Linked DNA regions of Homo sapiens. The protein of the gene in region 1 interacts with the protein of each later gene in a pairwise test. Each region holds a gene or a part of one and is shown in the gene's direction. Other genes may lie near its edges.

Region 1 (5,544 bases):
TTTGCAGCAAAACCTGAAACACTCAGTTTCACTTTCTGTGACTTGTTTTGTAAGTTGTTTTCAATAAAGAAGATTAAAAAAAGAAGCCAGGCAAATGAAAGCATAGGGGAGGAGTGGCAGACACGCAGTTCTCACTCTGCGACTGCAGGAGTGTCTCTTGTTTCCCCCTTGTGCACTTTGAGGAATGAGGGGATAGACGTGGTCCCTTCCTTTTAGTTCCCCGTAGCAGAGTTCTTGTAAGGACTCGTTCAGGGGAGACTGATAAGGGTCTCATCTCCATCGGGGGACCTCACCAGGGCATGGAGTGGGTCAGAGTGGGCTGGGAGGGGATAGACTGTCATCAAGGTGAAGAGATTTGAGGGGTGGTGGAGGGCTAAACTCCAGATCTGACCACTTCAAAGTCAGCAAAGGCCAGGAATTGCTGGGGTAGGGCTAAAAGCTGAGGGTTAGCAAAGAGAGGTGGGTCCTGGAATGGGGACCCCTGGGGTGGAGGACAGAGAAGTCACACTGTTAGAAAGCCGTCACAGAAAAGGCAGTGTGGGAATGAGCTTACTTAAGCCTAGGGAATATTCATTTGACAAAATGGTTTGTGTACATTCTGGTTTTTCTACCCTGACACCTGAGGGCTCTAACACATTTCTGTTGGTTATTGTGGAAGAGAGTGTCCAAGGGTGGGAGCACAGATGCCGAATTTGGTGTGTAGGAGACCAATTTCAACAACTCTGGGGGCCTTGTAGAGTTTGCAAAGCCCCGTAAGTGATTCTAATCTCTCTGCACCCACAAGAACCCCTAGTTTAGACACAGCTTCCCTTTATCTGTGGTCATTCACCACAGATAATTTCATTCCCTAAAGAATCACAAGCAGCTTCTAACAGTAAATGCCCTTTACAGGAGGTGTAAAGTGCACTTGCTGTGTAGAGAGGGAGGCATACCATGAGCTTTGCGTGACTCAGGGAAGGAGGATTTTTATGGAAGAAGTAGCATTTGAGCATTCTTATTTTGATAAAGTTATTTTTGAACTGCTTTTTAAAAAGGTATATTAATAAGAATAGAAGGGTGATTAGAATTCTAGTGTAGTGTTTTGGTTTTATTTTTAACCATTTAGCAAGAACATTAATGCTATTAAAACTGATGTGCCTTAGGAGACCCTCAGATTGGTGTGGTAGTCACATATTTCTTCTGACGTTTCTGTTGCTAGGTGTTGACATAGATTTAGAGATAGGTGTTGTCACCCTCAATGTGGGTGGCTTGAGTACTTACATATATATTGTCTCATTCTCTGAATTCAGCATGGCAGGTTATTATAATCCTCGTTTTCATAAGCAAGGCTTTGGCGATGAATATACCTGCCAAGTGTGGGTCTTCTCCTGCACCCCACAGCCTCGGAGGGGCTTTAAGGGAACATTAAGTGTAAAGCGTGTAATTGCAGAGGAGGTGGACACAGGGCTCCTGCGGAGGAGGTGGACACAGGGCTCCTGGCTCCCAGTTCAGAGCATCACAGCACCTCTCTCTGAGACCAGAGATACAGGTTAGTTTTCCTGACCTCCAGCTGACGTTAGAAAAGTTATTTTTGATACATATATCCAATAAGTCCAAGGGGTGGGGAATCCAATAAAAGTGTTAATAAAAATCCAATAAAAGTACCAGCTCTCCCGCCAGCCAAACTATGGCTGGTAACGCCATTCCAGTTATATAGGTTACTTATCTTAGTGCACAGAGGCCAGATCACCAGTCTAAGCGCCCCTCCCCCGGTACCGAACCTCAGTTCCTCCCAGGGTGGCTTCATGCCAGAACATATTGGAATATACCGGGACTCCCTTGAAGCAGAACACAGTGTTCCAACACTCCCATTAGCACTTTCTGTTACTCCTGTGTCTTTGTTAGATTTCTGCAAACACTTAATCTTCGCAACAAGCATTTTGGATTCAGACGTATTTTCTGAGATAAATACATAAATAAAAATCTATCCTGTTCATATTACCTTTTCCAAAGCAGTTCCCTTTGGGACTGAACATTTTTGATGTTCTGTCATCAGTCTGTTGTGAGCTACCAGGGAGGTCTCCCTGTGGGAGCAGTTCTGTAGTATATTCCTAGGGATTAGAGTGTAGGCTCCTGGACCTCCCAGCCGAATTCTTCTCCCTGCTCCTCATCCTTCTTGACCCACTCAGTATTCACAGAACGTGTGCTGCCTCAGTCCATTTGGGCTGGTATAACAAAATACCATAACTGGGCCGCTTATAAGCAGAAGTCTCTCTCACTCACAGATCTGGAGGCTGGAAGTCTAAGATCGAGGTGCCAGCAGATTTGGTGTCTGGTGAGGGCCGCTTCCTGGTTCATAGACGGCACCTTCTCTTTGTGTCCTCACATGGTGGCAGGAGTAAGGGAGCTCTCTGAGACCTCTCTTATAAGGGCACTAATCCCATTTGTGGGGACTCCACCCTTGTGACCTTATCACTTCCTAGAACCGCATTTTTTTTTTTTCTTTTGAGACACAATCTCTCTCCATTGTCCAGGCTGGAGTGCAGTGGCACAATCTTGGCTCACAGCAACCTCCACCTCCCGGGTTCAAGTGATTCTTGGGCCTCAGCCTCCTGAGTAGCTGGGGTTACAGGTGCCCGCCACCACACCTGGCTAATTTTTATATTTTTAGTAGAGATGGGGTTTCACTATGTTGCCAGGCTGGTCTTGAACTCTAGACCTCAAGTGATCCACCCACCTTGGCCTCTCAAAGTGCTGGGATTACAGGCATGAGCCACTGTGCCTGGCCCAGAGCCCCACCACTTCATACCGTCACCTTGCGGGTGAGGATTTCAGTGTGTGAATTTCAGGGACATGAACGTTGAGTACATGGCACAGACTATATGTCTGGCCCCACGCTATCTACATACAGAGTTACAGCAGTGAACCAGGTGGGCTAGCTGCTTACCTTGGGGCATGCTTACTGTCTTTTCGACTCTCAGGCATGTGATGAGACATCTCCATCTCATTGATGGTCATTATCAATGCACCGTTGTTACAGTGAGGTGGCTGCAGAAGGCTTCGATAAAGCCATTCTTACATACTTCACAAAAAACGTTCCAGGGTTCACCCTGCATGTGTAGGTACCTCTTCTATACAAATCTGCCAGCCTCTGTTTGTAGCTGTTTCCAAAAGCCAAATGTAGAAGGCCATCATAGATTTGGGTGGGCATCAGACCCTTCAACTGAGCCTGATTTTCTCACTGGTTATGTGCCTTTTCGTTGACTTTCAGAAGCCTTCGGTACCTGACACACCATTCAGCTAAGCAGGCCTGCAGCTGGCCTGAGGTCCTGGGTCTCAGATATGAGTGGTTTGATGTTGATCTTGCTCCTTTGTGATTTTTTGTTTTGTTTGTTTTGTTTTGTTTTGTTTTTTTCCTTCATGATTTTATCCATGAAAGCTTTTCTTCTCCAGGCCATTGTGGCAGTAGATGTTCACCTCCTATTTAAGTGAGATATTCACTCTTGGTAACTTTCTTTAGTGAGTGTCTCCAGTTATTTATTTTATTTTTTTCCTTTTTTCCTTACCCTTCATCAGGACACATAGTGTCTCCAGTTCTAATTGTAGATACTGTACTGACCAGCTCTGAAGCAATTGGGACTGTTTGAGGAGAGAGAAAAGCAGGCATGAGTCCACTCTGTTGGATCTATAGGGCCTGTGGATTTGCTGCCCGGAGTCCTGCAGCTGCTCCTGCTGTTGAGCATTGTGTGGGGCACCTCACCCAGGATTTTCGGGTGTTCTGGAAGCCATGTTGCCGCTCTACCTGTCTCTTTTGCAGATATGCCCAGAGGTCCCCATTCAGGCAAAATAGTCCTTGCGTTATATTTGTAATATGAAGGGTTTTGAACACAGGAAATAAAATTTCATCTTATTTTTTAAAAAGAGAACAACAAGACTTTGTTTTCTTTCCAATGTAGAAAACTTCAAATTTAGTTTTTAATGTAGAGAAACTTCACATTCATATTTTGTTTCTGTGTGAATAAGATGATTTGCTGTTGTTTTCCTCTAAATAAACTGGTCAGCAACATTACAGAACCAGCACAAACCAGCACAAAACCATCAAAGTGGAGGGGGTGTTTGCTTTTCTGTTCATAATAAGCGAGACATGTTACTGGTTAGTTTAGAAGGTATTTCCAGTAATACAGAATTGGCTGTATTTGGGCTGCTAATACACTTCCTGCTTTGCCATTAGGTGGCATCTTTATAATTTGAAGGATATTTCAATGTCTTAGGCAGGCTACTCACATAAGCCTTGTTAAATAGAGGAAACAGGTAAGTTTGTATGCATGCAGTTGGATAATTTGACAGACAGTTTTGAGCATATTTTCTCATCTGTTCCTGATGACACTTATCAGACTTAGATGAGATTGGGCGCGTTCAGGGTGGTATGGCCGTAGACCTATCAGACTTAGAGACCTGAGGTGCCCTGAAGCCATAGAGCAACCAAGTGGCCAGCTGAGGGTGCCAGCCCAGCCCTCCCGCCAGGCCCTCGCCGGCTCACCACGCTGCGCTGTGCTGCTTCGTGAGAGTGAGCGCATCTGTGATTGCTGAGGCCTGGCGCTCATGGGGTTGCACCCAGCTTCTGAGTTCAGGTAGTTAGACGATTTCCAGCGTCCTTTCAGAGGGGCTCTCAGAACTGCTTTTGTTTGTAGAATTGATTTTGGAAAAGTCTTAAAATATTCATGAAGTTTTTTTTTAAAAAAGCTGGTATTAAACCTTGAAAAAGTTAACTGAAATTTGGAAGGGTGATTTCTGAATTAGCTAGGGAGGAATAATGAAAAAATATTGTAAACTATATCAGCTAAATCACTGGGGTCTTGGCTTTATGTATTTTCAAGCTTAAAGGAAATGTCAAGCTGGGCACAGTGGCTCACATCTGTAATCCCAGCACTTTGGGAGGCCGAGGTGGACGGATCACTTGAGGCCAGGAGTTCGAGACCAGCCTGGCCAACATAGTAAAACCCCGTCTCTACTAAAGATACAAAAGTTAGCTGGGTGTGGTGGAGGGGGCCTGTAGTCCCAGCTACTTGGGAGGCCAAGGCAAGAAAATCACTTGAACCCAAGAGGTGAATGTTGCAGTGAGCCAAGATTGTGTCACTGTGCTCCAGCCTAAGCAACAGAGGGAGACTCTGTCTCAAAAAAAGAAAAAAGAAAAAAAAAGAAATGTTGAGTGAGATTCTGGCATTTGATACCATAGTTTAGTGGTGGAGTATTCTTTATTTTCTTTTTGAGATGGAGTTTCACTCTTGTTGCCCAGGCTGGAGTGCAATGGTGCGACCTCGGCTCACTGCAACCTCTGCCTCCCACGTTCAAGCGATACTCCTGCCTCAGCCTCCGGGGCATATGCCACCATGCCCAGCTAATTTTTTCTATTTTTAATAGAGACGGGGTTTCACTATGTTGGCCAGGCTGGTCTTGAACTCCTGACCTCAGGTGATCCACCCGCCTCGGCCTCCCAAAGTGCTGGGATTACAGGTGTGAGACACTGCGCCCGACCTACTGGAGTGTTTTTTAGGATCTGTGAAA
Region 2 (4,424 bases), on another chromosome or scaffold:
CTCATCATTGATAGTGGGAATTGGCATACATAATATATACCGTTCCTTTTTACCCAAGAAGCACAAGGTCTGATTATTTTAATACTTTGGATGGACCTTAAGCTTGTACTACATGGCTGAGGTCTTTCTGCATTTTCTGTGGTTAGTGTGTGCAGCTGGTGCAGACCTGGGGTAGTTCTGCTGCCTCCTAGCAGTGTGTTCTTGGGCAAGCTATGAATACGTCTCTGAGTTCTAGTTTCATCATTTATAATGGATAAAAATAATAGTTAATAAGCTATAGCGAGGATTAACTGAGATAATATGTTTTTGTTGTTAAAATAAGCAGTGTTTTCAGTCTCCTTTGGGAAGAAACCCATTCTCTGTCTTGGTAAGTAATGAAATAATAGTACTTTTAACCTCTTTTTGGAGAGAACATAGACTTTGGGTCAGACAGACTTGGATTCTAATTCTGGAAATTCGGTAACTAGCTAAGTGACCTGAGACAAGTGCTTAATTTCTTTAAGCTTCAGTTGTAATCAGAAAATGGAGATCCTGGCTGGGCTCGGAGGCTCACACCTGTAGTCCCAGCACTTTGGGAAGCCGAGGTGAGAGAATCACTTGAGCCCAGGAGTTCGAGACCATCCTGGGCAACATGGCAAAACTCTGTGTCTACAGAAAATACAAAAATTAGCTGAGCATGGTGGTACACGCCTGTAGTCCCAGCTAATCGGATGCTGAGGTGGGAGGATTGCTTGAGCCTGGAAGGTTGAGGCTGCAGTGAGCCATGATCGAGCAGCTGTACTCCATCCTGGGTGACAGAGCAAGATTATGTCTCAAAAAAAAAAAAAAAAGAAAAGAAAAGAAAATGGAGATGCTGCCTAGTTTACTTGGCTGTAAGGGATTAAGTGAGGCTATATGTTGAGGGTCAAGAACTGGCACATTGTAGGTGCTCAGTTAATGTTACTTCTTTTTTCTCTACCAGAAGAAAGGGAAGTGTTACACATTTATTTTGGTTTTGGTGACTGATTTAAAACTTATGTGGGTTTTAATTTAGTGGAATAGGATCTTGCAGGAACAAATTTCATTTCACTTTTTATCTTCCAATTTAATACTCTCACACAAAAACAGTTTTTCACTTTAGTATTTGTTAAGCAGATGAATTATTTGTGGGTAAAGAAATGAGCATTGCTTAAATCTCTTATTAGTATGCAAACTGCCCACTGTTAAAACCTTTCTTAGAGGATTATACAATTAGATAAACGCCTTTTTAGAGGTATTTTAGGTAAGATAATCTTACTTTTTAATGAATTAAATCATCCACTCATTTAGTTGGTCATTTAAACATTTGTTTGTCATGTTTGGGTAAGGAATTGTGCTGGAGTCTGTGTGAGACTTCAGGATATTTTTGGTGTTCAGTGAGAGGCAGTGTAGAATACTGGTTAAGAGCCAAAGTTGGCTGGGCGTGGTGGCTCACGCCTGTAATCCCAGGGTTTAGGGAGGCCGAGGCGGGCGGATCACCTGAGGTTCGGAGTTCAAGACCAACCTGACCAACATGGAGAAACCTTGTCTCTATTAAAAATACAAAATTAGCCATGCGTGGTGGCACATGCCTATAATCCCAGCTCCTCAGGAGGCTGAGGCAGGAGAATTGCTTGAACCCGGGAGGTGGAGGTTGCAGTGAGCCGAGATTGCACTCCAGCCTGGGCAACAAGAGCAAAACTCTCTTAAAAAAAAAAAAAATCCAAAGCTGTGGTGACAAACTGAAAATGTAGCTTCTGCAGCTTACTGTTATCATGGTCAAAGTACATTTTTCTCATTTGTAAAGTTGGGTTAATAGTGACACCTTTTACAGTTATTGTGAATATTAACTAGGCTAATGTTTATAAAGCAGTTTTCATAGACCTAGGCACATAGGCTGCCAAGCAAATTGTACCTTCTGAAGGCCCTGGCATATAGTGAATACTGAAAGGGAAGCTGCTGTTACTTTGTTTTCTTTTGAAATAGGTGATTATTTGTTTTATTGAAATGAAAGAAATTAAAGGCTCTTTGGATAAAGAAGAACTGATGATCAAGGGATTAGGGTACTAGTTCTAGCTCAGTGACCTTGAGCTAGTAGGTATTTAACTGGTCTCAGTTTTGTTGCTTTTAAGATAAAGTAGCTAGACTAGATGACCTCTAAGATTTCTTCAGACTCAAGTGTTCTGGTTTTAAATTGTGATTTTTCAATATAATCAACTTGAGCATCTGTCTACTAGGTACGTAGCATTGTGTTAGGTTATATGGGTTAAAATAACATAAAAAAGATAGCATATGTTTTCCAGAAGGTAAATAACTAGTTGGGAAGTTGTAGGCACGTGAAACACTGGACGATTCAAATAAGTACTGAATTAAGTAATGTAGCTTGTAAGTGGTGTCAGATTCCTGTCATTTAGAGTGGTTAGAAGAAAGGCTTCCGTAGAGGGACAGAGACCATATGTTGGTCTACTGGTCCAGCAGACTAGCCATGACCAGCTTCCATTTTACCTACTAGTACATCCTCAGTAAGTCATCTCAGCTCTTTGATAGAATGAGATCACAATATCCCCTTCTGCCACAGTATCACAGGGGCTATTTCAGAACCATCTGACTCAGAGCTTTGAACTGGATTGCCTAGATTATCTAGGGCTTTCATCTCTTTCTTTCTTCCTTTTTTCTCTATTTCAAAACTTCTGCTATTGCCTTTTTTTCTCATTTTCGTCTCTCTTTTTATGGTAACGTTTTTTATTTCACATTCATTTTATTATTTCTGATGATTTCTGTTTGAATATTAAATCAAACTATTGCTATTATCTACTGTCCTCACAGATTTCATAAAATCTACTTTTTGAAGCTTTTGGTTTTTTGCTTTAGTTTGAGATGGAGTTGCGCTCTTGTTGCCCAGGCTGAAGTGCAATGACGTGATCTCGGCTTACTGCAACCTCAGCCTCCTGCGTTCAAGCGATTCTCCTGCATCAGCCTCCCGAGTAGCTGGGATTACAGGTGCCTGCCACCACACGTGGCTAATTTTTTGTATTTCTAGTAGAGATGGGGTTTCACCATGTTGGCCAGGCTGGTCTGGAACGCCTGACCTCAGGTGATCCACCCGCCTCGGCCTCCCAAACTGCTGGGGTTACAGGCATGAGCCACCATGCTCGGCCATGAAGCTGTTCTTTAGTGAAAAGAATTTTGCCATTTTCTATTACTTTTTGCCCTATTATGTATATATTATATGTGTGTGTGTATATATATGTATTTGTACACATATAAGGTAATTCATTTGCTTTCAGAAAGCAGATACAAAATGACTTTGAAAGTTGTTTTTCTTCCCATAGGTTACCTGCAACTCTTTTCCTTCAAAGCACTTCTTTATGCAGTCACTAGGATTTGATGCCTTTTAAAAAATTCAGCAAAAATGTTATAGGTCATATAATAATAATCTAGATTTTAAAATAATGTATATTTTAAAATACTATATATTAAGCTTAGTAACTACTATGCTTAGTATAGTGACCACTGTTAAGCCCAGTAACCACTGAGCATTACTATTAAGCTTAGTAATCACTGAGTCAATAGATATAAAATTAAAATGTGATTAATTGGTGAGACTTCATGGATTGTGCTCAAAGCCAGAGTTGAAAATTACTGACCAAAAAATTGTTCTGGTTTTGAGAAATGTCATTTTCCTGATTCGGCTTGTTTTATTTTGTTCATTATTTTTATTTAATTTGGGAGGATCTCAAAAGTATTTATTAAGAGTGGACTGTGGAGTTGGTGGATATAAGAGTATATAGGTTAAAAGTGAGCAATGGTGTTAGGATTCAAATCTCAATTCTGCTCACTAGCTTGCAATCCTGGGCACGTTATTGAACTCTGCATCCCAATTTTCCAAACTAAAATGGGGGTATAATAACACCTACTTTATGAGGCTGTTGTGAGGATTAAGTGAGATAATACATGTGAAGTTCTGTGTCTGGCACTTAGTAAACAACAATAAGTGTTGGCTATTAATATTGTGGTAAAAAGTAGTACCTCAAATTGATAAACAATTGTAGTATGCATATATTAGAGTGGCTAAAATAATTAGTATTGGTTGTCTCTGGGGATTGAAGAGAAGATGGGCAGAGGACTTCTTATTATAAGCCCTTTTGCCCTATTTGATGTTTTTAAAGACGTGTGCTTTGCTACAAGGGAGTGTTTATTGAGAATCCAAGTATGGTCTTGACCCTTTGCTAGGCTCCGAAGTAATAACATTTACAAAATAACACATTGTAAAATGATGTAAGATTAACTGTAGACCTTCAGATACCTCAGGATAGATGAGGGAGAGTGTGTCTGTGTGTATTTTTTAAAATTAGAAATGATTCGTGGTCCTCCTTTCCTCCTAGAGAGGGTTGTAAGGGTATGTTAAGGTAGTCAGCATTGAACAG
Region 3 (4,424 bases), on another chromosome or scaffold:
TAGGAGGCCAAGGCGGGCGGATCACCTGAGGTCAGGAGTTCAGGACCGGCCTGGCCAACATGGCGAAACCCCATCTCTACTAAAAGTACACAAAAATTAGCCGGGCATGGTGGTGTGTGCCTGTAATCCCAGCTACTCAGGAGGCTGAGGCAGAAGAATCGCTTGAACCCGGGAGGCAGAGGTTGCAGTAAGCCGAGATCTTGCCACTGCACTGTAGCCTGGGTGACACAGCAGGACTCCATCGCAAAAAAAAAAAAAAGGGAATTTTGTCTTAAGGTCTTTGTCCTTGATGGTAGTGGATGTGGAGAGTAGATGAAGTCCAGAAATTTTTCTCAGAGAGGAAATCATCAGTACCTAGAGATGGATTGAACATAGCAAGTGCAGGAGAAGGACATGTCAAGATGTACCCCTACTTCAGATTCACAGAATAGGATGGATTCTATCATTCCATGAGCCGGGATCCTGAAAGAGGACCAGTTAGTGTGTGGGAGTGGGAAACATGAGTGGGTCTATTAGCTTGAGACATCCAAGTGGAGATGTTGAGTAGAAAGTTGAATGTACTTGTCTGGAGCTCAGGTGAGGGGTCTGAAATGGAGATTTGAATTGGGAAATCATCAGTGTATAACTGAAGCTGTGGGCATTAATGAATACTTATACTGATTATAGGATGAGAAAGAGGAAGGGGCATGAGAATAAGCCATAAGAAACTCCAGCAGGTAATGGCTAATAGAGGAAGATGAGCCAGCAGAGGAGTCTAGGAACCCAGCAAACAGTAACAAGAAGTGTAAAAGATGAGATGAGATGAGGAGTGTGGAGATGAGAGTGTGGAGGCCCCGGATAGAGGCTGGATGAGAGATTCACGGGGTCAGATGCTGCTGGGAGGACAACCAAGACGAGCACTGTGTCTGTTGGATTGAATGACACAGGGGTCATGTTGACCTTGGTAGGAGCTGTTACTGAGTCGTGTTGGGAGTGGAAGCAGGTTTGGAAAGGGTTGAGGAGTGAGTGGGAGGTGAGGAAGTGGCAACAGTGAGTGGAGACAACTCTCTCAGGAAGTTTGCCTGTATGGGGGAGGAAAGAGAGCAGTGAGTGGATCTGGAGGAGCGTCAGGTCAAGTTGGGAGACCGTGGATCCTATTGAGAAGGAGAGGTTGATCATATAGAGGAGAAAATAGATAAACAGTGGTATAAAATTCCTGGAAAGGCATCATAGGAAGAATCCAAATCATAGGTGAAGCAGTTGGTTTTGGGAAGGAGAGAAAGGGATAGGTGCTGAAGTTTGGTTAGGTTTTTATGTTTGAGGATGTTACCCAGTTGGATGGCTTCCCTTTCCTCTGTGAATCAGGAGGGGAGATCAGCCTCTGAGACGGGTGGCCAATGGAGAGTTATGTCCTAGTCTCAGGCAGGCCTTTGCTGATGTCTTGGCTGTAGTAAGCCCCAGGTTCCTGTAATGCCCTCCTCTTCCTCCTTCATGATATTCAGTCAACAAATAGGGAATGCTATGGGTGCCAGGCACTGTTCTAGATGTTGGTGTTACACTGCATTGTAACAAGTTGTTCAATGACTGTTTCCCGCTGAACTGAGAACTCCTCCAGAGGAAGAACCATTTCTTTTGTCTTCATCACTCTCCCCTGTGTCTAGCACAGTGCCTGGCATATGGGAAGCTGTCAGATTAGACAACTCCTGACTTTGAGCAAGACTCAACCCCAACCCCTGTGGTCTGATGCCAGGATCTTCAGGCTTAGTGACTACTTCTTTCACTTCCTGCCCCGAGGCCCCTGCCCAACTCCCTGCCTTGAGCCAGAACCCAGTTGGCTCTTTGCATCCTTTGGTAACTCCAATGAGAGGGGAGAGATTAGGTTGTGTTCCTTCTTTAAAAAATTGGACTGAGATCATCTTTTTGACCTCGAGCAGTGGGGTGTTGGTGACCACACCACCTCAGGCTAGATGCTCAGGCTTCAGCACTTAAACAGTTTCACCATTCTTCCTCTAATACTTCCTGCCCTGGTGACCAGATTGGCGGGGCTGCCCTGAGGTCAACTTGGCTCTTCACTGTTTCAGCCTCACAGTGCATGCACTCTTCTCAGATCATATCTCCTAGTGCCTAGGAGGTTGGTCTCTGCCTGACCTTTGAGAAACCTGGCTCTGTACACTACTGCTTCAGAGAAGGGTTTGCCATCCTTAAGGTCCTCTGAGCATGGCAGAGTCGTGGAGTCTTCTGCTTCCTGACACCCATGGAGATGCCACTCTTGAACAGTGTCTGTGCCAAGATGTTGGTTTAAGCTACCTCCCTCGCTCCCTTTTCCTAGATCTCAGCCCTCACCTCTCCAGGATTCCTGTCCCATCTTACTTCCCACTCAGGGACCCTTTGGCATTCTCTGACACCCTCCCAAACACTCCCTTTGCTCCTCCCCAGCCCATTGGGCCACACAGCCTTTCTTGGTATTTATTCCCAGCCAGTTCTGAGCTTCCTGGATCCTCCCACCCCCTGTGTCTGTCCCGTTCATCCGTCCTTTCCTTCTGCAACAGCCCAGTCTGTGTCGGCACACGGCACACTCTCTTTGGTAATGGGAATGTGAAATTGAATAAGACACCGTCTCAGATATTCTGATAGAATGTGGTTCTGGGTGTTGTGAGACACGAAGGAGAGAACAGTCACTTGATGGTGGGGAGAGAACAGGAAAGACTGCTTAGGAGCTGTAACTGCTGAGGTTAGTTTTGAAATACAAGCAGAGGTTCTCACAAGGGGAGACAGAATTCCAGGCCGAGGGAGCAGTATAAACAAAGACCCAGGGCTTTAAGAGTGTGCGACATGTTTCAGAATCCGCCACGCTTCATGTGGCTAGAGTATAAGGTATAAAGGAGGCGGGAGGTGGGGAGGGGACTGACAGGTTATAGAGGCCGGCTTAAGAGGGCTCTTGGGTGTCTGCGAACGAGTGCAGGCGTTATCCGAAAGGCAGTGGTGAGCCCTCTCATTTTCTGAACCAGGGAGTGACACAATCTGGTTTCCATTTTTGGAAGATTACTGTGGTTCTGGGAGGAGGTAGAGCTATTTTTTTCTTCATTTATTCCAGTGGCTGTGAGTTTTCTCATTGGCCAGGAGGAGTCACACTGAGCAGATCAACAGCCCCACGTGAGGCAGACACGTGCGCAGAAACCTTTTTCATCTTACAGATGTGTGGGTAGCATAGCACTAGTGTCTGAGGAACTAGAGACGTAGAAAGGTGAGCTATGGGGCCGGGCGCGGTGGCTCACGCCTGTAATCCCAGCACTTTGGGAGGCTGAGGCGGGTGGATCACCTGAGGTCAGGAGTTTGAGACCAGCCTGGCCAACATGGTGAAACCCTATCTCTACTTAAAAGAAAAAAAAAAAAAGAATTACAAAAATTAGCTGGGCGTGGTGGTGGGCACCTATAATCCCAGCTACTCAGGAGGCTGCAGGAGGTTGCAGTGAGCTGAGATCGTGCCATTGCACTCCAGCCTGGGCGCACCGCACCTGGAGAGATGGGCAAGCCCTGCTCAGGTAGCTGCAAGACCTGTGCTCAGCGCTGAGAACACAGAGGGAAGGGGGGTAGTGGTGAGTCAGGGAAAGAAAGAACTCCTTAGTAGAGGAACAGGGAGATAGGGAACTCTCAGATAAGACATCAAGGAGAAAGGTCTGTACAGTGGGAATGAGAAAGAGCACAGTGCAGTGTTTGTTGGGATGGTCAGTGAGGGAGAATTGTCTGTTGGGGGAAGGGTCGGGTAGGGCAAGAGAATCAGTGAGGCCATCGAGGGAGGAGAGAGTAATGTGGTAGGGGCTGTCTGAAGGAGGGCTTGCATGGAGGGCTCAGGATGAGAGAGAAGTGGGCAGTGGTTGGTCAGGGAGAAATAACTGAAATCGGGGGCTGGTGAGGGTCCAGGGAGAGAGCACTTTCTCTTGGGGGTCCGGGAAGGAGAGCAGCAGAGCAACTGGAAGGTCAGGGAGAGTGGGGAGGATGGAATGGGGCCGAGGGTGGGTCCCTGGGTGGCGGGCTGGAAGGATAGTTGGGACTCAAATGGTTGCGGAGAAACTGACCCACGAAGGGCTGTGAGGAGGCAGAGGGAGGGGTCTGGAGGGGGAGCTGTCCTTGCGGAACAGGACGTCCTCTTACCTGAGAGGCAGGTGGAGTTTGTTTGGGGCACCATAAGGCATAGTAACGTAACCAAAGTGTTTTCTGACACTGGCAGAGGAGATGCCAAAGCGAAGCCTGGAGGAAATGGGGACTGATTCATACATTCATTCAGCAAATATTAATGGAGTTCCTGCTCTGTGCCAGGACTACGCTAGGCACTAGGCATACTGTATTTAACCAAAAAGGCAAAATCCTCACCAACATGGAAATTATAAATTATAGTCATGAGGAGACAATCATTAGACAAAGTAAATAATAAATTGGCTTGTCAG

What was found.
Region 2: the proteins of FBH1 (region 1) and ZDHHC17 interact in a two-hybrid assay, tested with the Homo sapiens proteins (one large-scale study listed by BioGRID and IntAct).
Region 3: the proteins of FBH1 (region 1) and APBB1 interact in binary tests that used the Homo sapiens proteins (3 or more experiments, as listed by UniProt).

Annotation. Positions count from the first base shown.
Region 1 is NC_000010.11:5,895,943-5,901,486, forward strand, and holds part of FBH1 (F-box DNA helicase 1), read left to right. Parts: exon of another isoform or gene 1-1,116; coding exon of another isoform or gene 1,117-1,528; intron 1,529-4,590; exon of another isoform or gene 4,591-4,610; intron 4,611-5,544. UniProt on the Homo sapiens protein: 3'-5' DNA helicase and substrate-recognition component of the SCF(FBH1) E3 ubiquitin ligase complex that plays a key role in response to stalled/damaged replication forks.
Region 2 is NC_000012.12:76,766,205-76,770,628, forward strand, and holds part of ZDHHC17 (palmitoyltransferase ZDHHC17), read left to right. Parts: intron 1-4,424. UniProt on the Homo sapiens protein: Palmitoyltransferase that catalyzes the addition of palmitate onto various protein substrates and is involved in a variety of cellular processes.
Region 3 is NC_000011.10:6,412,581-6,417,004, reverse strand, and holds part of APBB1 (amyloid beta precursor protein binding family B member 1), read left to right. Parts: intron 1-4,424. UniProt on the Homo sapiens protein: Transcription coregulator that can have both coactivator and corepressor functions. Adapter protein that forms a transcriptionally active complex with the gamma-secretase-derived amyloid precursor protein (APP) intracellular domain.